Linked DNA regions of Homo sapiens. The protein of the gene in region 3 interacts with the protein of the main gene of each other region in a pairwise test. Each region holds a gene or a part of one and is shown on either strand. Other genes may lie near its edges.

Region 1 (4,152 bases), on a different chromosome or scaffold from region 3:
TCAGCATGAGTTCTAAATGATGTTATCAGACTATGTAACTTCAAGTAATCTTTTTTTTTTTTTTTTTTTTTTTTTGAGACGGGGTCTTGCTTTATTGCCCAGGCTGGAGTGTAGTGGCGCAATCTCAGCTCACTGCAACCTCCACCTCCCGGGTTCAGGCAATTCTCCTGCCTCAGCCTCCCAAGTAGCTGGGACTACAGGCACTCGCCACCATGCCCAGCTAGTTTTTGTATTTTTAGTAGAGACGGGGTTTCACCATATTGGCCAGGCTGGTCTTGAACTCCTGACCTTGTGATCCATCCGCCTCGGCCTCCCAAAGTGCTGGGATTACAGGCGTGAGCCATGGCGCCCCGCCCAACTTCAAGTAATCTTCTAATCATTATTTCTATTTTTGAGATACTGGTTCATAAAACATCAAATATGCATGAATCACAGTGCTATCCACTGGCAGCATGGCAGTGAACTACAATGAAAACCAGTTCTACAAAAGACACTTTGAATGCCATTGTTTCACACCTTTAATACTGTCTTAAAGGTTCTATTGCTCTTCAACGATCTTAGTGTACTTTGAAATATAAAAGTAATAATTATCATTGGAACAGTTATTCTAAATCTAAAAAGATAACTCCCATAGCAATATTTGTTTACTCAGAACATATTTTCACTTCCAATATATGTAAAATTTCTCACAAAGAACAGAACTCACAGTTTGAACAGAAACCTCAGTGTTTAAATCTCCACATTCAGTAAAATAAACGCTACATAGTAGGTTGTTCTGAATATAAATCACGCACTTAACTAAATGGGATATAATTTCTAACTTGTGTTAAAAGTGAAGAAATAATTTTTTATGTGAAGCCTTGTCCCAACTCAGTCAAGTGCAAGATTATCATATGATACAAATCAAACTCTACTAACACAGCACATTTGTCAGAGACTTGAAGGCAGATACATAACTACAGCTGGGGAACTGGATGTCCTTCAGCTAGGGTGTAATGAAAGAAAAAAGCGTATCATAGATCAGGTCCCAGTTTTAATTACTTCATTGATGACAATGCCTTACTTTATTTATTGAAAAATGTTTCTTCCACTGAAAATACACTTCTAATTTTATAATGCAAGACAGTAGGGGAAAAAATAGGAGCCCATGTAAAAAAAAAAAATCCACTCTTAGAATCTGAAGTTATTGATCAGATATGCAATGACTTTTTTCTGCTGTGATGATAATCAAATCTTTTTTCTTAAGTACTGACTTGCCAATTTATCTTTGATAACTGATTCAGAAAGATAAATGAACCTTGTGACTTTACATATGAGAATATGTACATATGTATATATATATTCTAAGAAGTTATGTCCCATGATCTGACCCATACTTCTGATTTAAAATATAACTAAATTCTCTCAATAAAACAGTACTAATTTTAAGTTTTAAACTGAAATCACCCTTTTACCACACTGTTCTCATTCTCTTTACTTTTTATTTTTACATTATTTCTATAAATACTAAAAAAAAACCCCAAAATCCCCAATCTTGAAACCAACTTACATTAGAGGTCTGAGGTTAGTTTATAACTTTTAAAATATTTTGTTAAAATGTAAAAAACCTGAAATTACAAACAAAAAAATTTATAATTTTACAGTATATATAGAATTTTTTTTAAAAAAATATTCTGAACTGTTTTTATATAAGTAATCAAATGTTATTTTTTTAAATGAAACTCCTTTACAGGCTAGAGGAGGATATGTGGTATTGCCCCATTAGAAATCAATACACATTTCATTTTTTTATGCTGGTACTTCAACTATTTCAAAGTAGTCATTTGGTAGAATCACATAACCTCTTTCTGATACGTCGTCTTTCTCTTTCTGGAAGTGAACAACCTCCTTTAATTTTTCAAGCTGCCGTTCTTGCCTTCTGCATCGCTGCTGTGCGGTCTTGAGCTTCTTTCTGAGTTTTTCAACTTGCTGTTCTAGCTGATGAATCCTTTTCCGCTGGTGCATTGTATCCTCCACAGTATAGTTGTGGTCACAGAAAACTGAGAGATTAACAGGGGTCTGAAGAGGCGGCATTAGTAATCCAATAGCAGCATCAACCTGGGAAACAGGAGGCGGTAAAGGAGGTGGGGGAAGCTGTTCCTGTGGCTCCAGAAGATCTTCTTTCTAAAACAAAAATACAAAGTATGTTTGAATTTAGTAACTAAAAACAGTTTAAAAGAATCTGTGGACTGACCAGGCGCAGTGGCTCATGCCTATAATCCTAGTACTTTTGTGAGGAAGAGGTGGGCGGATCACCTGAGGTCAGGAGTTTGAGACCAGCCTGGCCAACATGGTGAAACCCTGTCTCTGCTAAAAATACAAAAATTAGCCAGATGTGGTGGTGCACGCCTATAATCCCAGCTACTTGGGCGGCTGAGGCAAGAGAATTGCTTGAAACTGGGAGGCGGAGGTTGCAGTGAGCCAAGATCATGTCACTGCACTCCAGCCTGGGCAACAAAGACTTTGTCTCCAAAAAATAAATAAATAAATAAATAATAAAAGAATCTGTGGAATTTAAGAAATACTGACTTTTTTTGGGAATCAGTGGTATAGAAACATTCCAAAATGAGAAAACAGTTTCAGTTTGAATAAACTTTTCTACCTGAAGTAGAGGGACGGTGCAGGAAAGAGACAAAATGAATCATCAGATCTAATTAAATATTAAGCACTGAGGAGAAAAAAATGCTTTGAAACTAAACTGTCACTGATAAAGAAAACCCAAAACTTATCAATATATAACTGGCAGTACAGAGTGGTTTTTAACTAAGTTACAAAGCTGGACTAAGTTTCTTAGTGTGAGGATATTTATCTTTAATAAACTGCATTTTGTGTTTTCAGAAGTGTATCACTGTTAACTACAAGGTTCCAGGCACATTTATTCTCTTAACACTAACTCAATTTTCCACATTTTAATCAATGAACACATCAGTTTGATAAACAAAAAGCAACCCAATATTTTAAAATGCATATTACCTTGTCATGTGGCTCAGTACAAAGAAATATTGTGGGCACAGCATTCTCTTTCAGTAACTTGTTGTTGCACTCTCTCTTAAAGCAGTCTGGAGTAAAGTGCTCTGAACAAATACTGCTATACTTGGTGGGTTTAAAGTTTTTTCTTCTGACAGCTGCCTCCCATTCTTTACAAAGACTGGGTCGAGTAAGAGGAAACCTAAGAAGAAGGCATAATTCAATTATCTGTCCTGATTTTTTAAATAAATAAAGGCACCCAAACTTTCCAGCTTAGGAAATATCTTACATTGGTATTAAAGATGTTACAATTGTATTATCCTATTGGATTAAAGATTAGCTCTAGTTATCTATTTATCTCATTTATTAATTTTTTAAAAATTTTTTTGAGATGCCGTCTTGCTCTGTTGTTAGGCTGGAGTGCAGTGGTGCAATCTCGGCTCACTGCGTCTCCGCCTCCCAGGTTCAAGCGATTCTCCTGCCTCAGCCTCCCAAGTAGCTGGGACTCAGGCGTGCGCCACCACGCCCAGCTAAGTTTTGTACTTTTAGTAGAGATGGGCTTTCACCATGTTGGCCAGGATGGATTCGATTTCTTGACCTTGTGATCTGCCCGCCTTGGCCTCCCAAAGTGCTCGAATTACATGCGTGAGCCACTGTGCCTGGCCCTCATTCATTAACGTTTAACTTTTTATACTGAGTTCACCAAAAGATTCAGGTAAAATACATACTATAGAGTAAATGTGCCCACGGCTCATGCCTGTAATCCCAGCACTTGGGAGGCCACTGTCCGAGGGACTACTTAAGTCCAAGAGTTCGAGACTAGCCTGGGCAACACGGCAAAACCCTGTCTCTACAAAAGACACAAAAATTAGCTGGGCATGGTGGTATGTGCCCAGGTACTCAGGAGGCTGAGACTGAGGTGGAAGGACTGCTCGAGCCTGGGAGGTCAAGGCTGCGGTGAGCTGAGATCATTCCACTGCACTCCAGCCTGGGTGACAGAGCCATACCGTCTCAAAAAGAAAAAAATAACCTGTATTCATATTTTTTACCAGTAATTTTCTGTGTGCTGCACAGAGAGACAAAGATTGCACATTTGTATCTGCGTACTGGGAAAAAGGGGCTTCTAGTTCTCTTAGCATCAGTCTG
Region 2 (3,500 bases), on a different chromosome or scaffold from region 3:
GTGGTCAAGTGCAGTGTTTCCTCATGGCTTAATTTCTTAGAACATTTAAAAATTTTTCAGTAGTCATATACTTATTTTAATGAGTAATGGGAAAACATACCTATATTAAATATACAGGCATTTTTAGACATGACAAGGATCATGATTGAACTTCAGGAAAACATTGATCCAGAACAAACTTGTTTTTTCCTGTAGCATTTCTCTGATTCTGATCAGAGCTAGCTGGATTTAATCCTTAAAGGAAAGCTCTTGGCCTTGTGAAAATTCTTCACCCTAGTCATGTACCCACTCAGGATGTTATTGCACCAATTTTTCCCCTACATTAGTGTCAGTGAATCAACTAACATTAATTTGGCACGTACTGTGTTCCAAGCTCACAGACCCTGCCCTCAGGGAATTTCCAGTTGATTTGAAGAATCAGTGAATAGCACCAATTACTTCTTGATGCAAATGAGAGAAGTCAAAATGCAGGAAGCATTAACGCAGGCAGCAAGGTGTGGGGAATAGGGGACTAGAAATGATAACATCTCCAGAGAATTCTGGCTCTGCACTATATGAGTGCATGACCTTTACAAAGTCACTTCATTTCTGTGCCTTAGTTCCTAGAAAATGTGGATGTTGACATGAATGAATCAGGGCCAACCCATATATTTTTGAAATGCCCAACTCTAAAAGGCGCTATTCACTGTTACTGCAGGGCACAACCTGTACAACCCTCTATAACGACCTCACCAACATCTGCCCTACTTCTCTCAGAGGGTTTGTTGTTCAGAAATAAAAGGAGACTCGGAACATTTTCTTTGTTTATAAAGAGCTGCAGACATACAAGAAGGGCTTTTAGAAGAGACATTGCTTAGCATTTCTTTAGAGAAAGATTATATAGAACAAGAAAAAAAATAACACTGAGTGACTATAATGTGTCAGGTTATATGCTAATTGATTTCTGTATTCATATGTAATATCTTACCCAAAGAACTGGCATGATTCTGCATAAGATTACATAGCTGATAAAGGAGTGGAACCAGGGTTTAAAATGAGGATATTTGACTCCAAACTCCATGTTTATTCTAGCACTTCACAATGCTCAGACATTTTATTTTGCATGTGCTAATATCATTACTTTGCAATGGTTCTCTTACAACCAGGCCTGTCCTCTCCCCATATGAGTAAGTTGCAATTATCTAAGCACAGTGACCTATCCCTTGTTTTTGTGACATCCCAAGTCTTGGGAATTAGAAAGCAAATTTCACATGTGGTGGAGGCTTAATGAGTCCTTGGCAATAACTGAATCAACCAAAATACACTGAAAGATTGGGAGGAAATACTAGGTTGAACCATAAGAAACTGTTAACATTTTACCATTTTTGGCCTACAAAAATGGCCATTTCTTTTGCCTTAATATAGTTAGTGTATTTGATAAGCTATATCCTCATTTCCATTCATATTTTAAGACTTTAAAATAGTCCCAGGGCAAAGCTGTTATGGTATGATGTAAAATCTATAAGCATGGAGTTTTCCTCACGTGAATTCCACAAACCCCTAGGTTCATCCATGTACTCCCTTAGAGGAAGCTCCCACCACCCCCTGCACACAAGCACGCTAGTGGTCCCTTTCATCATCTTGAATATATAATCCAACGAGGGTAAACGCCCTAAATTTCCAGTAACTTTGGGCTCAAAAGTCCTTCCTTTGACTGCTCTTGAGAAAGTCATTTTGCCTCTCAGAATGTCACCTCTAAAATAAGCCTAAACATGGCTGCTCTGCCTACTTCCTGGGGTTGCCAGAGGACAAGAAAGTGGTAGCCAAGCTGTCATAAAGACTAAACAGATGGTCAGTTCTACTGGTAAGGTTTAAACATACCCAGCCTAAAGCGCTATGCAACGTGGAGTATATTTCTTTACAAAAGGGCTACCCAAAAACTAAGCATCTGAGCTCAGCGAACATATGCAGTTCCAGGATTCCAGACCTCCTTGGCCTATGTTAGAAGCCAGTTCCTTCTCAGTAGGACTCCTCGACCAGTGGTATCACTGGATTGGTTTCATGGGCCAAGCTAACCTGCCCTGATATCCTTTAGCCCTTGACAAGAGGTCTATGCCAATACAAAGCCCCAAGAACACCCCAGTAATGTTCTCCTAAGCCTGGGAGGTACAGCCTGTGTAGCATGGTGCAACTGACCATGAAAATAAAAGATTGTCTCTTTTCTGGTCTCTAGGAAATGCCCTCACATAGAGATCCAGTAGGTAGGAAAGAAAAAGGTTGGCTTCTTCATGGAGGAATGAGATATGAAGCTGATGCAGAAGGGGAATAAGTTGGTCATGGGCTCATCATGCCTTCCTGTCGGGTGCTAGAAAGGTGCCAAGAGACTCTGTCCTCAGGGGAAATGTGCTCATAGCTGTAACCCAATGATGCATTAGTGACAGGGATCCAGGAAGGGCCATGGGCACGAACATCGCCCTCACAGAAGCCTGAAGTCCCATCTGTGGATTGGAATTCTTCCTTAGCATTAGGTCTGGTGCCCTCCTTGGTAAATATAAGTGGTCCTGGAAGGAAAATGCCTGAAATCTGCCAACAACTGTGTCTTTGTCAGATCACCAACCTGGTGGCAAGTGAAGAACATGGGGGAAGGGGACAATTGAAAGAAGGGAGGCAAAATGCAAAGGCCAAAGGGCAAAAGGAAAAGGGGAAGTGAAAGGACCAAAATCTCTTACTAGTGCTACAGGACTTGTAGCAACAGGTCTCTCTGGGTGGGACCTTCTGGGATAGAATTACTGGGGGTGTGGTTTCCCATCCAAAGAGTTTGGGGATGGGATTGAACAGCAACTAGCCAGGCTTAGCTGACACACACTGATGTCTCTCCACCCCTGGAAAAATGTGGCTACCACAGCCCAGAAGAGATGTCCAAACACTGCTGATAGAGTCCAAGCCTGCTGACCAAGTTTCTTAAACACCAACTTTGCCAACATTACTGAGGGTTACTATCAGAGAACATTCAGCCATCTGAGGTACTATTAAAGCATGTGAAGTTGAGAGGACCCAGGATTCTGGAAGGAAAAGCCAAATATGATACTGATTTTCATATGAGATGACAAGGCTGAGTCTCATTATCATTATTTTAAATTAATTCAGCTCCCTGGTACCATGGCAAAGTCAATGGTGGTTTTAATAAATACTAACAGGTAAAAGGATAATTCACAAGGTAAATGTGATTGATGTTGACAGAATTACAACGTTAACAGCAAAGAGGATAAAGAAGATGTCATATGTAGTATGTTTGCATACTGTTTAACAGAGACTCTCCTGAAATCTTCCTGGGAATTCAAATTGGCGGGTGCTGTCAGCAGGAATTCACTGCTTCTGAGTAACAAGCACAAACAAAGGGGAAGGAGAAAAGGCAACTGGGAAGGATGAAGGAGGCACCGGAGGGTGCTATTGGAGCTCAGTCTGACCTGGTGTAGCTCTTTCATTAATGATCTAGGAGTAAACAATGCCTTAATGAAATT
Region 3 (3,408 bases):
TATATTTTTACTTTGGAAGCCTTTATATTTGTTATTGATTCCATGAAGGGCATTGCTCAAAAAACATAGGCTCCATGGCCACCTGTCTTGCTTGTTTAATGGGGCCATTCTGAGATATCATAGCCTGGAGGAGACATTCTTTAACCAGTCCCATCAGAAAAAAAATCACTCAGTGTTTACCTTCCAGGATTTCAGTCTAGGTTCTTCAAAGACATACACGAGATTTTTGTAAATAGCAATCATTTGCAACATGTTCTGGAAGACCCCGCACTGAAACAAACCCACCATACTATAGAACTATTTCAACTATTGCCACTTCACCATCTCAGGGGCATGCAAAAATTAAAAACAAATTGAGCATTTAGAAAATAAAACAAGATTTTTAAACGCAATCCAGGAATAGGTTATTTATGACCCAGTTTAAATATATTTTTTGATAGAACTATTTGATCTAATTTGTTCTTCATGTTTTTATTACTTGAAAAAGGACAGACACAAAGTATGAAACTCCTCAGCTTTATTAATGCAAACATATTTTTATTAAAGAATGAATGCATTTATGCTAAAGAATAGCTTACATATGTTGTAAAGCAACAAGCATATCTTCAAGAAGTGAGTCCTCCTCAATATGACTCCATGCTTATTCTACATGCCTGAAAACTGGGCCCACACACAGGGGCACACGTACACGCACACAAACGCAGATACGGACACACAGATATGCAGACCGAAATGCTGACACCATCGCTCTCTAGATTGGATTAGCTCTCATTTAAGGCTTCTTAGGTGCCGCAGTGCCCCTAATATTACCAGGATTGAAAACAGACTTTTAGGAAGGAGCAGCATTACTTCGAAAAGTAGTCATCTGCTCTTGTCCTCCAATGTGTGTATTTTAACAAATACAATTTCATTCTATGTTGACTCTGTGTTTATAATATTTAAAGAACCATGAAATTAAGAAATCTCAGGATTGTTTTAGTGAGAACTTCCCATTCAAAATAAAAAAAAAGGGCAATTCTGACCCTAAGATATCATCAATTTTATGATAACGCAATAAGATTTCCCTTTAGGTTAAGATGACATGGGTCTCTAGACAAGCCAAGTTTATCTAACTCATTCTGTATCTAAGTGCAATGCTGAGTGATGGGGGCAAGGTTTCCTCGGTGATACCAAATCAGATTTGAAGCTTGCCATCAAGGATGCATCAGACAGGACCATTAATTAAATAAGTTACCATAAATCTCAGCTGGATAAAAGGAGAGTTGACATAGAGTGTGTTCACTTGCTGATCACTTATTCCTCTTTGCCAAGGCTTCTGTTGTTGGGGTTGTTGTTTTAAACTCCTGGTTTGTTTGACTGTTTATTTTATTTGCTTGATTGTTTTCTTCCTTTTGGTGTCCTGCAACATATGCTGAGATTTCATCCCTCTAAGGATGTTAGAAGGGGAAAGAGGGTGGACAGGGCAGCAGGAGGGAAAGGGAAGGGGTCATTAGTAATTGCAAGTATTCTAAGAAAATAGATGAAGTGAATACAATAAGAGGGTACTACTTGGTATATTTATGTAAATAAAAGCATTATCTGTAACTGTGAATTAACTGCCAACTATCAGGTTGTTAGTTGTAAAGCTCAATAAAGGCTGTGCTGATTTGCATACAGAGGAGGGCATCTGCCGTGGGAGAGGAACAGAGGGCCCTCCCGAGATGTTCCTTCCTCCCTGCGGCCAGCGTCCCCATCAGCACCCTGCCCACCCCACTAGAGATCCCATAGGTGCCCCTAACATTCTTGTGGAATTTCATAAGGCAGATCGGAATGGCCCATCCAATAACAGCTGCAGAGTATTTGCCTGAGCGTGGTGAAAACTGGCATGGAGCTCTCCCACAGAGAGGCATTGGGAAATGAGAAAAATAAGAGAGCCTAGAACCTTCCTCCCCATCCACACTCCCACCCTCCTCACAGTCACAGCAGCAGCAGGTTTCAATGTAACGTAATTACTTTAATGATACATTTCTTTAGATTTAGAATTGCTCTTCTGAATTTAAAAACCTTGGTCAGCCAATAGTTTGGCAGTCTTTTCATCCCAAATTTGAAACGTTGCTTACTCATCTATTCCCTTGAACTCCGTGACCAATGCTGCCTTTGCTGAAGCGTCTCAAGTTCATTCAGCCATCATCGGATTCCAATTCCTGGGAAACCTCTTCGGAGGAGCTGTTGCTGTGGATCCGCCCGTCGCTCTTCATACTGTGGAAAGTCTTCCTGAAGGCCTCCATCATGGCGTGGGCCAGTTTCTTGGCCTCGAGCTTGCTCTCGCACTCCACGGCGTGGCAGTCCATCTGGTAGGACAGGTCATCATTGATCTCCCTGTAGACCCAGGCGAAGATGTTGGGGCTCACGTTGTGGTCGGCGGTGCAGTAGGCGATGCGGGCCACCTGGAAGGTATCCATGTGCACTGTGGCCTCCCCTTTGTGGTCGAGATGATGGAGCCAAACTTGGAATGGCCGGATTTCCAGGAGGGCATTGGCCGGAAAGACATCCTCTCGGGCTAGCGTGTGCTTCTTCCAGAGCTCAATGACTGGCTTTTCTGTGCAGCCTGACAAAAACTGCATGCCAGTGGTGGAGACTTTGCCCAGGTAGGTAACCTGCAGATGCAAGAGAGGAAGAAAAGGGAGGCATCAGCAGAAGGCTCTTTGTTCTGATAGACTGAATGAGTAGCTGTTCCACACAGTCATGGTGTCACATTGGGAAGGTGAAGACACTTCTTTCTTGCTCCCTGAAAGAATAACTCATCAAAATTTCTACCTTTTCTCTCTAATGAGTTGCCTACTTGGCAAATGTATTGAAATTATTTGAATAGAGTTGGATTTTAAAATCTAATTTCTAGAGAACTACTCTCCCTCTCCTTACTCCTTTTTTAAACCCCAATTAAAACGAAGAGTATGATCTTTTACATAATTTGGCATTCCTTTAACATCATAAAGTCACTCAAAGTTTATTTTCGGCCAAACACACACAGAATTGAATAATAGGAAGGAATCAAAAGGACACTGAGTTGGAAAAACAAAATCTTTATTAAACTTATCTCCTAGCCTGGGTCTCTTTCCAAATCTCTCAATGTTTGATTTCACTTAGGCTGCCTGCTTCTAATGCCAAGGACGCAAAAACTGTTCTCTTGAAATTATGGCCTAAAGCATGATAGTTTTCCTTCCCAAGATAATTTTTAAAAATAACAGCAGTGCCCAGTTCTTTTTTAACCTAAACTGTTTTTGAACTGATGAGCATCTGTTGATCTGATAATAAATGAAAGATCTACAGAAGAATCAAGAGTAGAATGCTGGCTTATCACCTAGCTAGGTAGGCAGTATGAAAACTAAGAAAAATAATTCCAAACGATTCAAATACTGTCTTTTTAAA
Region 4 (3,500 bases), on a different chromosome or scaffold from region 3:
AGAGACTCTGTCTCAAAAAAAAAAAAAAAAAAAAAAAGATAGTGATACAGTATAAACATGAAGATTAAAGGGAAAATAACTGTGATCCCACCATTCTGAGATCTCTAAACCTTTTGGGGTTTTTTGGTGCACATTTTATGATTTTATAACTCACTTCTTTCCCCTACACAGTAGAAATCTTTCCACGTTAGTGCAGATGGACAGAGTCATTTTTAGCCAGTTTTGCTTATTTCATCAGGTCTGGATGCTTTCCAGGGATGGCCCCCTCTAACCTTTCGTTATTGAAACTAGCATTGGCCTGCTGTGTTTTCATGTCTCTTGGATCAGTGTCTGGACGTGGGCTCTCAGAGGCAGGTTGCTGGGCTAGAGGACGCAGCTTCCACGGGTTCCATGGCACAGGATGCATTGCCCATTTCCCCCGAGATCTGGAAGGATGTGAAGCTGTTTGTCCTACTTGGACTCCTAGCGGGGGCCTCTCTCCTGCAGGGCTCTGAGGTGCCCTCCCGCCTGGCCCTCGGCCTGCCCAGTGTGCCTTTCAGAGCCGTCTTCCCCTGAGAGCCTCTGTGTGCCCTTCATCCTGTCACCGTAAGTGACCAGATGACTGTCAGTGACTACAGCGTGGAGAAAAGAAAGAACCAAACAGACTTAGCTTTGTGCGTGGAGTTGTAAAGCATGTGTTTTCCTTGCTTACTAGGAAGAACTCAGTTTTTCTGCATCTGCGTCTGAGTTGTTGATTTTTCCTAGCAACTCGATGTTGCTTTGTCTAGTGAACAAAGGCTTTCCTGTTAGGAAGACTCATTACCGTATCTGAAACATTGAAAACAATGTCTTCCACAAAAATTGCTTTTACCTCTAATACAAATTGCTAGGATTCAGATGGCAGAATGGAGGGAAGAGAGAAAGAGACGTTGAGTTGATCTTTTTTTTTTTTCCAAGTTGAGATCTAATTTATATACCATAAAATTGACTGTTTTAAAGCATACGTCTCAGTTGTTTTTAGTATATTCTCAAGGTTGTACAGTCATCACTTCGGACTAATTCTAGAATATTTTTTATTACCCCCAGAAGAAGCCCTGTGCCCATCAACAGTCACTTTCCATTCTCCCAGCCTCCAGCCCCGGCACCCAGCTCATCTCCGTCCTCGTGGATGTGCCTGTTGTGGACCTTGACTCTAAATGGAATCCTGTGGCATCACCCACATTGTAGCTTTTGCCCAGTGCTTTGTTCCTTTTCATGGCTGCGTGATGTGCCGAGGTATGGATGGCCCTCATTCTGTTGATCCATCATCAGTTGATGGGCATCTGGGTGGTTTGCACTTTTTGGCTGTTGTCAGGAATGCTGCTGTGAACGTTGAGGTGCAGGTTTTTGTGTATGTATTAATTGCAGGATCAGGGCAATGGAGTTTTTCACACATGAAATTTGAGGAAAGGAGGGATGCTCCTGATTTCATTTTCATAGAAATTGAAAATCACATTGCAGTAACGACAGACTAATTGTTGTAATTATTTTTGGATGTGGATTTTGTATAAATCCCCACATAGATCTGGCCACCCCCTTCAGGCCTGATGTTTGTTTGATTGAAACTGTGTTAGCTAAGGCAAAAAAACTTGGTAATTCTGGGGAGTCCAGGGTCATAAAAACAAAAAAATCTAAATGAACTTATGAGACGATATCAAATTTGGAGCTTACTTAGTATTGATCTGTATCTATAAGGAAAAATACAAATTTTCTTTGTGTCTGAGTTTAAGTTTTTTTGATGTTTTGTGTAAGACATTTTTCTTTAGCTAGGCTTTGAGCAGAGTTTTATAGCCATCTTTACCACTGATTGTTCTCATCAAACATAATTTTGCTGTACAACACAGGTTGTTAGGATTGGGGTGAACTGCAGAACTTTTTCTCATCTTAAATTTGACTTTATTTTGAAGGAGAGGTCATCATCCAGAGCCATTCTGTTTTCTCATCCCATTAGGAGGAAACATTTTTTGTAATAAATCTGTTTCACTGACTGTCCTTGGGAATGTATATCCCAGTGGGGTCGGTGTTATGAAAATATCTGCTTGAGCTGCCTTATTTGGCATAGTGGCTTGGTGAAAATGAGGAAGTCACCTTTAAATGATTGCTGTGTATGTAAATGTTGGGAAAATAGCCAATCCATTAATGTCTCTTATGTCAGATTTAATCTCAGCCCGTAGTGGCGTCCTCTCTTCAGCACTTCCATGGGGGGTGCGAATGTGCCGAGAATGGGGCCAGCATCTTCCTGCCTGTGGCCCTCTGTCCCAGAGCACCTGGGCAGGTGGTGAATCAGCGAGTTTCTACGAGGGAAAGCATTAGGAATATGGGAAGTGCTAAAGGGGGTGTGCTTGTCTTTCTATTTAGTTGTTTTAGGCCCTGATAAGAAATAGGAGCCGCAGGAGACAGATTGTTCTTAGCTTCTTATTTAAGTATTTAAGTGCCTTAAGTCTTAGAGAACCACAGATTTCAAAACGGTTATTTCTTAAGAATTCCAAATGGCTTGTGTGAATTGACATGCTGTTTTGTATCAAATTTGGAGTCAGTTTATTGTACTGCAAAGATACCATATCATTTTATTCTAGTTTTTTTCACTTAGGTAATTCCGTTTGTCATTACACACGCTCCACTGGAATAAGAAGGATGGTAACTCTCAGCTATTGAAAGCAGGGAACAGTAGACTGTGTCTCATTGGAATAAGAAGGACGGTAGCTCCTGACTGTTGAAAGCATGGAACAGTAGACTGTGTCTCATTAGAATAAGAAGGACGGTAACGCTCAGCTATTGAAAGCAGGGAACAGTAGATTATGTCTCATTAGAATAAGAAGGACGCTAACTCTCAGCTATTGAAAGCAGGGAACAGTAGACTATGTCTCATTAGAATAAGAAGGACAGTAGCTCCTGACTGTTGAAAGCAGTGAACAGTAGACTGTGTCTCATTAGAATAAGAGGGACTGTAGCTCCTGACTGTTGAAAGCATGGAACAGTAGACTGTGTCTCATTGGAATAAGAAGGACTGTAGCTCCTGACTGTTGAAAGCAGGGAACAGTAGACTATGTCTCATTGGAATAAGGACGGTAGTTCCTGACTGTTGAAAGCAGGGAACAGTAGACTGTGTCTTCATTCTTGTGCTTGCCTTTTGTCAGTAGTTTTGGTCTTGGTGTGCTCATAGCTTTGTTTTGTACTTGAAAGTGTGTGGGGCCTCATCATTCAATGACTAAGCTGCCAGCTGAGTTAGAGAAACAAGTTGAGCTAAAATGGACCTAGCATGGGATCTGTTTGTCCATTAAGGGATTTAGTTAGGTTCTTAATCAAGAGTTTAAATTTCTGCTGTGTATGCATTTGATAATTCTTACAAAACGTGACTGATCCTATACATAAAATGTTAGGTACTTCATTTCAGTGGGGGAAGGATTGTGGTTGAATTCTAATTGAATTATTGCCAGGAATTGGTCCCATGGACTTCCCAGGCAGTAGAATGACTTACGTGG
Region 5 (3,500 bases), on a different chromosome or scaffold from region 3:
TTCCCCAGGGTGAGCCATGAGGCTCAACTGGGCCCGTAGCTGCTGATTCTGCTGGGTGGCAGCTTCCAGGCGCTCCTAAGGGGCCAGAAAAGAGAGTGAGAAGGCATGGAGGTTGCCAGGTTGTCCCCCTCGGGGCCCTGCCCTCACCAACTCCCTCACCTGGGTTTCCTGCAACTCTTGGCGGGCCATCTCGGCCACCGCTTTGCCCTGAGCTTCCTGCTGCTGCAGCTGGTCCACGAGCTGGGTCTGCAGCAGTAGCTGATTATGCAGCACCTCCTTCTCAGAGGTCAGCTGCTGATAGGCGGCCACATACTGCTGCAGGTGTCCCAGGTACTGGTCTCGCTGCTGCTGCAGACTTTGAGCCTCTTGGCTCTTCAGCTCCACCTGTAGGAAGACCCTGGGCGTGAGGGCAGGTGGTGGCCTGCTTCCAGATTCAGGGCCCATAAATAGGGTAGCGAGGGCTCTGTCACCTGCCCAGACCTCTGGCCCCTTGCTCCAGGCCTAAGTGACTGCCTCCCTTGTCTAGAGCCTCGTGCCTCCTTCCCCAGCCTCAAATTTCACATCCTTCTTCCCACCATTTAAACCGTAGGCCACAGACTGGTGGAAACGCAGAGGGAGCCAACCACCATCTGCTAAGTGTGCTACATGCCTAATGCTTTCCACGTATTATCTCATTGAATCCTCAGCACCTCTGCAAGGAAGATGCTAACTTCCTTTTTAAGTTAAAGAAACTGGGGCTTAGAGATGCAAAGTAGTTGAATGATGACCAGTGGAGCAAAGGCCAGAATCCAGTTTGAATCTAAGGAGCCTCTTATGCCGCTGTCTCTTCCCCTGTGATTGGGAGAAATCCATGCCTCTAGCTGGGACGATGATGTCCAGACCTGAGAGGAGCCCAAAGCTATCCACCTCTAAAAGTCAGAGGGCAGGGAGCAAGAAACAGTCACAGGACTGCCCTGGAGGGTGCTGGGGTCACCTGTGCCCCAGGCTGGAGCTGCCTCTGGCCTCACACCACCCCTCCCCAGAGGCTGGTGCCCGCCTCCCAGCCCTTCTTGGATGGGGCGGGGTTACCGTTTCCTTCAGCTCGCTCAGCTTCTCCTGCAGCTCGCCCAGCTTCTTTCCCAGCTCCCTCTTGACGTGCTGCTCCGACTGCAGTGCGCTGGTGATCTCCATGTTCTCATTAGTCTGGACAGAGAGAAGCAATCAGCGGCCACCCACTGCAGCTGGAGACCCCAGAACTTGCTGCCTTGGTGTCTGCCTCCCATGGCACCGGGAAGGGTGGAGGCAGGTTAGAAAAATCATCCCCTCTCCCCCACAGCCATCGGAGCAGGGCTCTGGCTCACAGATGCCTCCAGAAGTACCATTTCAAGTGAGGGCTACACTGCCCCACTTTACAGGTGGGAAAACAAAGGTCTGGAGGGCTAGGGAGGAGGGCGGGCTCTCCAGGTGGGGCAGCGCACCAGCTTTACAAATCCGCTCTGCAGCTCAGCCAGCTGCTCCTTGAGCTCCCGGTTCTGGGAGAGTGCGCGGCTGATGGTAGTGCGGTCGTTCTGCATGGTCTCCAGGATTTGCCTGCGCGCCTCCGCCTGCTCCCCCCAGAGCTCGGCCGCCCGCTCCAGCTCCAGCAGCCTCTCCTCCTGCTCCCGGTTCAGGCGACTCAAGCCCTCATTGTCTTGCACCTGGGCTTGAAGCTGTCCTGCCAGACCCTCCAGCTCCTTCCGCAGGTGCTCAGCCTCCGCTTGTAGCTGCTGCTCCACCTCGGAGGGCCCTGCTGGGGGCTCTGGGGGCGGGGGTTCAGCTGAGAAAGGACGCAGACAATAAAAGCCTCTGGATTCTCAAAAAAACCCTCCTCTTGGTCCATACCTCCTCTCAAGCTCCCCAAACTTGGCCTCCCTGCTGATGATTCCTCGCACCCGGATGTTAGCCAATCTTCCAAACCACTTTCCGATAGCGACAACTGTGGGTGGCTGACAACGGGCACTCCTTCGTCTTTGCTGATGGGGCACTGAGGCTCATGGAGATGACGAGACTTGCCATCTCCTGGCACAGACCTCTTTCCCTCTGCCTCAAAGCCATTCCATCCACCCAACTCCCTGGGGCATTCTAAACCACCCCCACAACCCTCTGACACCATTCCTGCTCCCAGGTCACCCCAGCCCCAGCTTACCCATCTGGTTCCTCAGTTCAGCCAAGCTCGTCTCCAGCTCCTGTACCCGACTCATGCTACATTCCTTCTCCTCTCTCAATGTGTGCACCTGCCCAAAGCACAGCAAGAAAGGGCCCTGGAGAGGGGCTGGTGGCTGGACAGGCTACCATCTCCCTCTGCCCCCACCGCCACAAAGCCCAGACCCATGACCACCTCTGGCTGTGCTCCTCCCATTTCGCAGATGCCCAGAAAGATCAAGTGACCTATCTAAGGTTGAGGGGGAGCTGAAGGGTCAGGTCTCACCTGCTCTGACATCTGCTGCATCCTCTGCCGCCACATGGCGCTCTCTCCTTTGAGATTCTCCGCATATTTATCTCTCTCCATTTGTAGTTGTCTAACCGACTCCATTACCTGCAAGAATGGCCACAGAAATGAGGAAGGACTGTCACTGGTTGTCACCTACTCCTGGCCACCTGGGGTCATCTTCCTTCTACATCCCTCCCCTGCAAAGCCTCACCTGCCCCAGGTGTGCTTCCAGCTGTGCCCGCTCCTCCATGGCCTGCTGTAACTGCTGGTTAGCATCAGGGGCTTCACACCGGCTTGAAAACTGGATGGTGAAGAGCGAGAAGTTTAGATCTGGGGAGCCCAGGCCGTTCCAAATAGTGCCCCTTAAAAGGGCTAGGGCTAGGCTCAATGTGCAACTCAGTCAATACAACTCTGCTGTCAAGTTTCTTTGCTTTAGAAATAAAAAATAATTTTAAAAAGATCTCAGGCCAGGCATGGTGGCTGATGCCTGTAATCTCAACACTTTGGGAGGCTGAGGTGGGTGGATTGCTTGAGCTCAGGAGTTCAAGACCAACCTCGGCAACATGGCAAAGCCCCGTATCTACAAATACAAAAATTAGCCAGGCATGGTAGTGTGCGCCTGTAGTCCCAACTACTTGAGAAGCTGAGGCAGGAGGATGGCTTGAGCCTGGGAAGTAGAGGTTGCAGTAAGTATCACTCCAGCCTGGGTGATAGAGCGAGACCCCGTCTAAAAAAAAAAAAAAAAAGATCTCTACTCTCTATTATTAGTGAAAGTGTTGGCTTGAACCTCAGAAGGAAATAAACAGACTCATGAGCTAGCCATATAAATGTAATCTCTAAAATAATGGTTTTCACCCATGATGCTTTAAAACAAAACAAAACAAAACAAAACAAAAATTGTCTTAAGCCCTAACCCTAAGATTCTGATTCCCCAGGTCCCCAATTTGTAGATTTTTAGCACTCTCTAGAGGATTTTATGCCAGGACCGGAACAAGGACCCAAATTTTCCAGCTCTTGGCTGGAGTCTCCCCATGCCCTGCATGATCCCTAG
Region 6 (2,444 bases), on a different chromosome or scaffold from region 3:
ATTTTCTAAAGGTGAGACACTGGTGGAACTGGGGTAGCTGCTTGGGACGTACCACCTATAGTTGTGGCTATTTCACAGAGAAGCAGCAGCTAGACAGACTCCCATCTGTAAATAAACAAGAGATAGGAAGAGGGGGAAATAGATTTGGAGGAGGCAGCCCTACATTTCAAACATACATTCCCTTTTTTAGATTTTTTTTTTTTTTTTTTTGGTTTTCAGTTTTGATGGTGGGATTGGAAAATAGAGCTTGGCTTGAGGACATTTTCCTGGGGTGGCACCATTATTTCTTGAAATAGAATCTTACTTATGGTGACACTGGCAAGCACTTGTGAGAACCTGAAGACGGATTGAGGTCATTTGATGCTCAGAAGTTGGGTGCTGGGTCCCTGCCTTCTCAGTCCGAGTTCTCCTTTCATTTTTGGGTGGGGAGGCGGGTTCCAAGAGCCCTTCATTGGTGGAGTTCACAAGGCAAGGTGTAAAAAAAAAAGTAGGGCAGGAAGACAGTGGTGTGCTGGCAGAGGTCTAACAATGGGCTCTCCAAGGAAGAGGAAAAGGTTGGTTGTGGAGTGTTTGTCAGTTTCCGTGGTGTAAATACTCCCACCACGGCTGACTTCAAGCTAGCAACCGGAGGTCACTGAACTAAGAGTTGGGAAGAGATAGGGCACAATATATGCTTACGAGTTGGTACACACCGTCAGCAGCAGCCAGGGTCAGGAGAAAGGCGAGATGTGAAGAGAGGCCGGGAGGTATCAGATGACGTTTCCAGCACTAGACCAGAAGAGGTGCACACAGCCTAGACCCCCTGAGGGGTACACCCTGATCTCTAGAGCCCACAAAGAGGTTTTTATTCAACATAAAACGTGTTCATCTCTCATAGGCCTGAGTCATGCTGGGTTCTGGGACATTAAGCCCAGGAGTGGGCCGGGTGCGGTGGCTCACGCCTGTAATCCCAGCACTTTGGGAGGCCGAGGCGGGTGGATCACCTGAGGTCAGGAGTTCGAGACCAGCCTGGCCAACATGGTGAAACCCTGTCTCTACTAATAATACAAAAATTAGCCGGGCATGGTGGCACGCGCCTGTAATCCCAGCTACTCGGGAGGCTGAGGCAGGAGAATTGCTGGAACCCGGGAGGCGGAGGTTGAAGAGAGCAGAGATTGTGCCACTGTGCTCTAGCCTGGGTCACAAGAGCGAAACTCCGTCTCAATAATAACAACAACAAAAATAACCCAGGAGTGGCTCAAGAGTCCAGTGTGGGATGAAAATATAAACAGAGGAAGACAACATATGTCACTGGGGAGGCTGGGGGAGCTAGACAAAATTCACACGGGAGGGGCAGGGATGAGACAATATTGTGCCCTGGGTCTGTGCAAACGTTGGGACCAGAATCCACTATAAGTTTCATTCTTCGGAGACACGGAAGCTCTGCACTGGAGGCCGGGACTCAGGCGTGGAAGAGAATCTTCTCCTTATTCACCGGGGAGGCTGTGTCTTGTGCAAACAAGTCATAGAAACTTGATGGGAGTTGGGGAGGGACTGAAGGATGCATGCAAGGTTCTGGGAAGGAGTGAGAAGTAGTGAAGGCCAAGGGGCCCCCATCACAGGCCGATGGGGTAAGACTTCGAGAGAGCCTGATCCTGGGGTCTTCTGAGACTCCACCAGGAGCCGGAGAGGGCAGGGAGCCAAATCCAGCTAGGAGGTTACAGATTGCTTTTCCTGGGCTGGGCTCCTGAGTGTTGGTTCTTCCAGCTGTGCACAGGGGATTTCAAACGTTCTACGTCCTAAAGCCAGGAAGAGTGACAAGGCAGGTGGGGACAGAAGGAAGAAGCCAGGAGCCTCCCTGAGAAGGTGTCACCTTATCTGTCCTCCTCTTCCCCACACACTGGCCTCTGGGTCCCCCTTCTCTGTCCACCCACAGAGTGAAACCAATTAAAATGTTGGATCTCATTTAAAGTCTGGGTGATTCTTTAGTTTCCGTGTTTTCTCCAGGAGGGGCAGGTAGAAACAGGAACTACTCTGTTCCTTCTGTCTGTGGGGCCTGGGTCCCTCCATGTGTTTCCTGTCTCATCACCCTCCTTTCCTTGACATCTCTCTAAAGCCAATTTATGAAGGATCAGGGGCTGGGTGCAGTGGCTCACGCATGTAATCCAGTGCTCTGAGAAGCTGAGGAGGGAAGATTGATTAAGGCCAGGAGTTTGAGACCAGCCCAGGCAACATAGCGAGATCTCTGTCTCTACAAAAAATTAAAAAAATCAACCGGGTGTGGTGATGTGTGCCTGTGGTCCCAGCTACTCGGGAGGCTGAGATGAGAGGATCGGTTGAGCCCAGGAGTTTGAGGCTGCAGGGAGCTATGATTGCACCACTGCACTCCAGCCTGGGTGATGCAACAAGAGACCCTGTCTCCAAAAACAAAAAATAAAAAAAAAAAAAAAAGAAGGAGGAGGAGG
Region 7 (3,500 bases), on a different chromosome or scaffold from region 3:
ACAATCTGCAAGAAGGGGCACAGGATTGCTCCTCTCACAAAGACACTTGATAATACTGTCCTTGATAGGAAGAAGGAAGTGGCTTCAGATCTGAAAGGATATGCTCATAGGCTTGAGACGGGACAAACTGCATCACTGGTAGTGGTAGGAGGTTTGCCGTAGATCTGTTTTTTCTCCTGTCTCTCTTTTTTGAGGAGAATATTATCTGTATGGCAGAACATACATTGTGGTCTTAAAAAGGAGAGTAAAGCCAAGAAAGGGGGATGATAAAGCCATAGCTTGGAATAAGAAAAGCAAAGGAATTATTGTATTAATTTGTGTATGTAAATACATAGGTTTCCATGTAATTCACTGGTAGGATCACTAGCCCTTGGCACTAACATTTGCTATCTTTGTAGCTCTGCTGTCTTAGTGGTGTATTGGGGGAGCATTGTGGTGTGTTGTCACACTTAATTTGTGTGCTTCCCTTGGCATCATGTGGTAGCAAGTACAGGGTATTCTACTCTTCTAGATGTGTGGGAATCATTGACCAAGTAGAAAATATGGTCCTGCTCCCAAGGAGCTGACATCATCATGGAGACAAGACAGATAAGCACACAATTAGGAATATGAAATACAGTTATTTTATCATTTATCTATGCTCTCTGAAAGCAGTTTCCTGCAGTCAGGGTGACTCAGAGCTATAGGGTCTTGGGAGTAAACTTCAGGTCTTAATACCACCAGGGAAAGGCGACCTCCAGCTCACCCTTGCTGGGCTTGTCTGCTGTCGTGAGCTGTCTGCCATTTTCCTCTTTCTGTGTTGTAATTTAGAAGTATTAGAACTTGGCTTGGGGAAAAGACAAAAACCCCTTTGTCTGGTGAGGGTGTAAATATAAATTTGGCACATGTTGTGGTGTCTATTATGTCTGTTAGTGGGTTTGCGGCAAGAGAGAGTGCTGTGTTCTTAGTCCCGAATGCCAAGCCTGAACTAGGACAAGTTATGGTGGAAATATCTTCCTTGGAAGATGCAGTTCTCAGTGGCAGTGGCTGAAGGAACTTCTCGTCACAGCCAGGCAGTGACTGAAGTGTGGTGTGGACACACCCAGAGTTGCTGCCTCAGGTGGCATTGATTAATCATACTAATATCTCCCTCACCCTTTTGTACTTGTCTTGGCAAAACCCTGTTCTACTAGCTCCCCAATAGTTTGGCCTTTACTAGGTATGATTGAACAAGCTCTTGGGGGTTCACCTTAGTGTCCCTTGCCCCTCTCGCATTTCCAGCCAGCTACGTCGCTCCAGCCATGGTACCCCGGGTCCTCTGGCCAGGCAGTGAGGGGCTGGGTTTTTCTTCCCATTGGACTGAAGCACCTTTCCCTGGAGGCTTGCCTAGGGCAGTTTCTGGTCTCTGAGTCAGTTCCTTCTGCAGGATACTGGCAGCTGGCAGAACTCTGGGTTATTTGAATACATCAGCCAAACATCTTGCCAAGATGGACTCATTGTTGCATAACGACAGGTTGGATCTATGGGTGTTGCAGAACCTGTTTCTGGGTTAAGAGTAACTCTCTCACCTTTATTATATATGTTTATTCATATGATGAATGTATGTGTGTATTTTGTGAAGTAAGGAAAACATGATGATAATATTGTGGTTGGAGTTAGATACCTTATCCTAAATATGTTGTCTTTTTAACAAATAGCATTCCTTTAAAATACAGTTGTGCTTGATGAATAAGGTGTTGTACAAGAAGCTGTGGTTACATTCTAAAATAAACTGCCTTGTTCTGAGGCAGGCACGTTTTAAAATTGTTGTTTGCTTCTTTTTCATCTCTTTTTATTTTCATCTTTTTTTGTGTGAGAAGATTCTGGAAGTTTTTAAGCCTCAAATATTTTCAATAATCTATTTTAACGGGTACCTAGCAGGGAGAGGTTGTTCTATTGGTATACCTAACCAACATTCAAATAAGAATAATTGAATACTGTTTACTCACTAATCTATTCTGTTGAGTTTCTAAGTATGAATAATCACAAAACTAGATAGTGCTGATATATTAACTTCTCTAAATGGTAAATGTGGTAAGTAGCAAAGACATTTTTGTTTAATTCTCTCCTTACACATGCTTTGGTTCAGACGCTGTCAAGACACATTGAAGTTTGAGGACATGTGTATTTCGATTATTTTATTATATTTTTATTTGCTGTGAATATGGGTTTATTTATTTGCTAGATCTTCTTTAGTTAGAAACATTAAGGGCATTTACTTTATTACAACATTTAAAGTGCATTCTAATCTTCATGAGGAATTTTAGGTAAAAGACCGTATCCTGAGATTCATGCAAGTCTTTGGCATTATGTTACTATTTAAAGTAAGTAATATGTAGTGGCTTCTCTGACATATTCTTTCTAAGAGAGTTAAGGAAAATAGTTGTAACTAAAAGCAAACATTGAAACAGTTTAAGGTAGGTTTACGTAGCAACAGAATTATTCGTTATGTTTACAGATAATTAACTCATATTTATACTTTGCTGATTTTCTCTGGCACCTTTACAAGATTTTTTTATTTTTGTAATATAAAAAGTAATTATGTTTGAAAAAGTAGTTAAGGATGTTTGAAGAATCTAGAAAAGCATAAATAAAATGTCCACAATCATGCTGCCATTAATTTTTTGGTATACGTCTTTGGTTTTTTTACCCTTAGATTTAGAAAAGCTGTTGATTTATTTATATATATATATATATTTTTTTTTTTTAGTTTATGAACAGATCTACATATATATATATGCACACACACATAATATACTATTGTCAACACTAGGTTTTATTTTTAAAAATCTTTACCATTTGATAAGTGGTAAATATTACTTAATCTTAATATGCCTCTCTCATTACAGTGATATTGAATGTTTTTTCATATCATCAGTGGCGTTTGTATTGCCTTTTTTCCTACTTCTTTTGTAAATTGTGTCTTTTACTCATTTAATTATTTTCTTACTGGTTTGAAAAAGCTCTTTAAATATTAAGGGTGTTAGTCTTTTGTCTTAAATATGTCACAATATGTATGGAAATAATTAGCAGTATATAACATAACATCAAATTGCTACCAATGTTGATATAAAAATTGTTCATTTCATAGGTTAATTTTTTTTAATCCTTTGGTTTCTAATGATATTGGTTAATTCATTTGTTAACTGCTATTTTCTGTAGCTACTTGAAAGTTCTTATCTGACTGTATCGTAAATCAGCATGCTTTCAGCTGTATATGTCTAGGAAATTGACATTTACTTTAATACTTAATAAAAAAATATGTTGGAGAAAAGCAGTGTATTCTGGAGTCAAATACATGATTTTGGGTGGGTGACGTAATCGGCTACTGTCCTCCTTTTCTAGATAGCCAAGATTTTTGAAGCATTTAACATCCCTGAAAGGCAGGACTAATGCTATGTCTACCATGCACTGCTAATTCTGACACTTTGACCTAATGGATAAATGCCAGTACAGTGGGTCTAGCCAGTTAGCTTGGTCAG

Evidence for each region.
Region 1: the proteins of PID1 (region 3) and THAP1 interact in binary tests that used the Homo sapiens proteins (3 or more experiments, as listed by UniProt).
Region 2: the proteins of PID1 (region 3) and CBY2 interact in binary tests that used the Homo sapiens proteins (3 or more experiments, as listed by UniProt).
Region 4: the proteins of PID1 (region 3) and BANP interact in binary tests that used the Homo sapiens proteins (3 or more experiments, as listed by UniProt).
Region 5: the proteins of PID1 (region 3) and GOLGA2 interact in binary tests that used the Homo sapiens proteins (3 or more experiments, as listed by UniProt).
Region 6: the proteins of PID1 (region 3) and CRX interact in binary tests that used the Homo sapiens proteins (3 or more experiments, as listed by UniProt).
Region 7: the proteins of PID1 (region 3) and NOTCH2NLA interact in binary tests that used the Homo sapiens proteins (3 or more experiments, as listed by UniProt).

Annotation. Positions count from the first base shown.
Region 1 is NC_000008.11:42,836,174-42,840,325, forward strand, and holds the end of THAP1 (THAP domain-containing protein 1), read right to left. Parts: intron 3,209-4,152; coding exon 3,013-3,208; intron 2,164-3,012; coding exon 1,789-2,163; 3' UTR 501-1,788; downstream 1-500. UniProt on the Homo sapiens protein: DNA-binding transcription regulator that regulates endothelial cell proliferation and G1/S cell-cycle progression.
Region 2 is NC_000013.11:45,705,320-45,708,819, reverse strand, and holds part of CBY2 (protein chibby homolog 2), read right to left. Parts: intron 1-3,500.
Region 3 is NC_000002.12:229,023,473-229,026,880, forward strand, and holds the end of PID1 (PTB-containing, cubilin and LRP1-interacting protein), read right to left. Parts: intron 2,637-3,408; coding exon 2,160-2,636; 3' UTR 501-2,159; downstream 1-500. UniProt on the Homo sapiens protein: Increases proliferation of preadipocytes without affecting adipocytic differentiation.
Region 4 is NC_000016.10:88,006,934-88,010,433, forward strand, and holds part of BANP (protein BANP), read left to right. Parts: intron 1-3,500. UniProt on the Homo sapiens protein: Controls V(D)J recombination during T-cell development by repressing T-cell receptor (TCR) beta enhancer function. Binds to scaffold/matrix attachment region beta (S/MARbeta), an ATC-rich DNA sequence located upstream of the TCR beta enhancer.
Region 5 is NC_000009.12:128,259,008-128,262,507, forward strand, and holds part of GOLGA2 (golgin subfamily A member 2), read right to left. Parts: intron 2,751-3,500; coding exon 2,661-2,750; intron 2,555-2,660; coding exon 2,447-2,554; intron 2,253-2,446; coding exon 2,165-2,252; intron 1,796-2,164; coding exon 1,458-1,795; intron 1,183-1,457; coding exon 1,069-1,182; intron 385-1,068; coding exon 160-384; intron 76-159; coding exon 1-75. UniProt on the Homo sapiens protein: Peripheral membrane component of the cis-Golgi stack that acts as a membrane skeleton that maintains the structure of the Golgi apparatus, and as a vesicle thether that facilitates vesicle fusion to the Golgi membrane.
Region 6 is NC_000019.10:47,841,381-47,843,824, forward strand, and holds the end of CRX (cone-rod homeobox protein), read left to right. Parts: 3' UTR 1-1,944; downstream 1,945-2,444. UniProt on the Homo sapiens protein: Transcription factor that binds and transactivates the sequence 5'-TAATC[CA]-3' which is found upstream of several photoreceptor-specific genes, including the opsin genes.
Region 7 is NC_000001.11:146,219,022-146,222,521, reverse strand, and holds part of NOTCH2NLA (notch homolog 2 N-terminal-like protein A), read left to right. Parts: intron 1-3,500.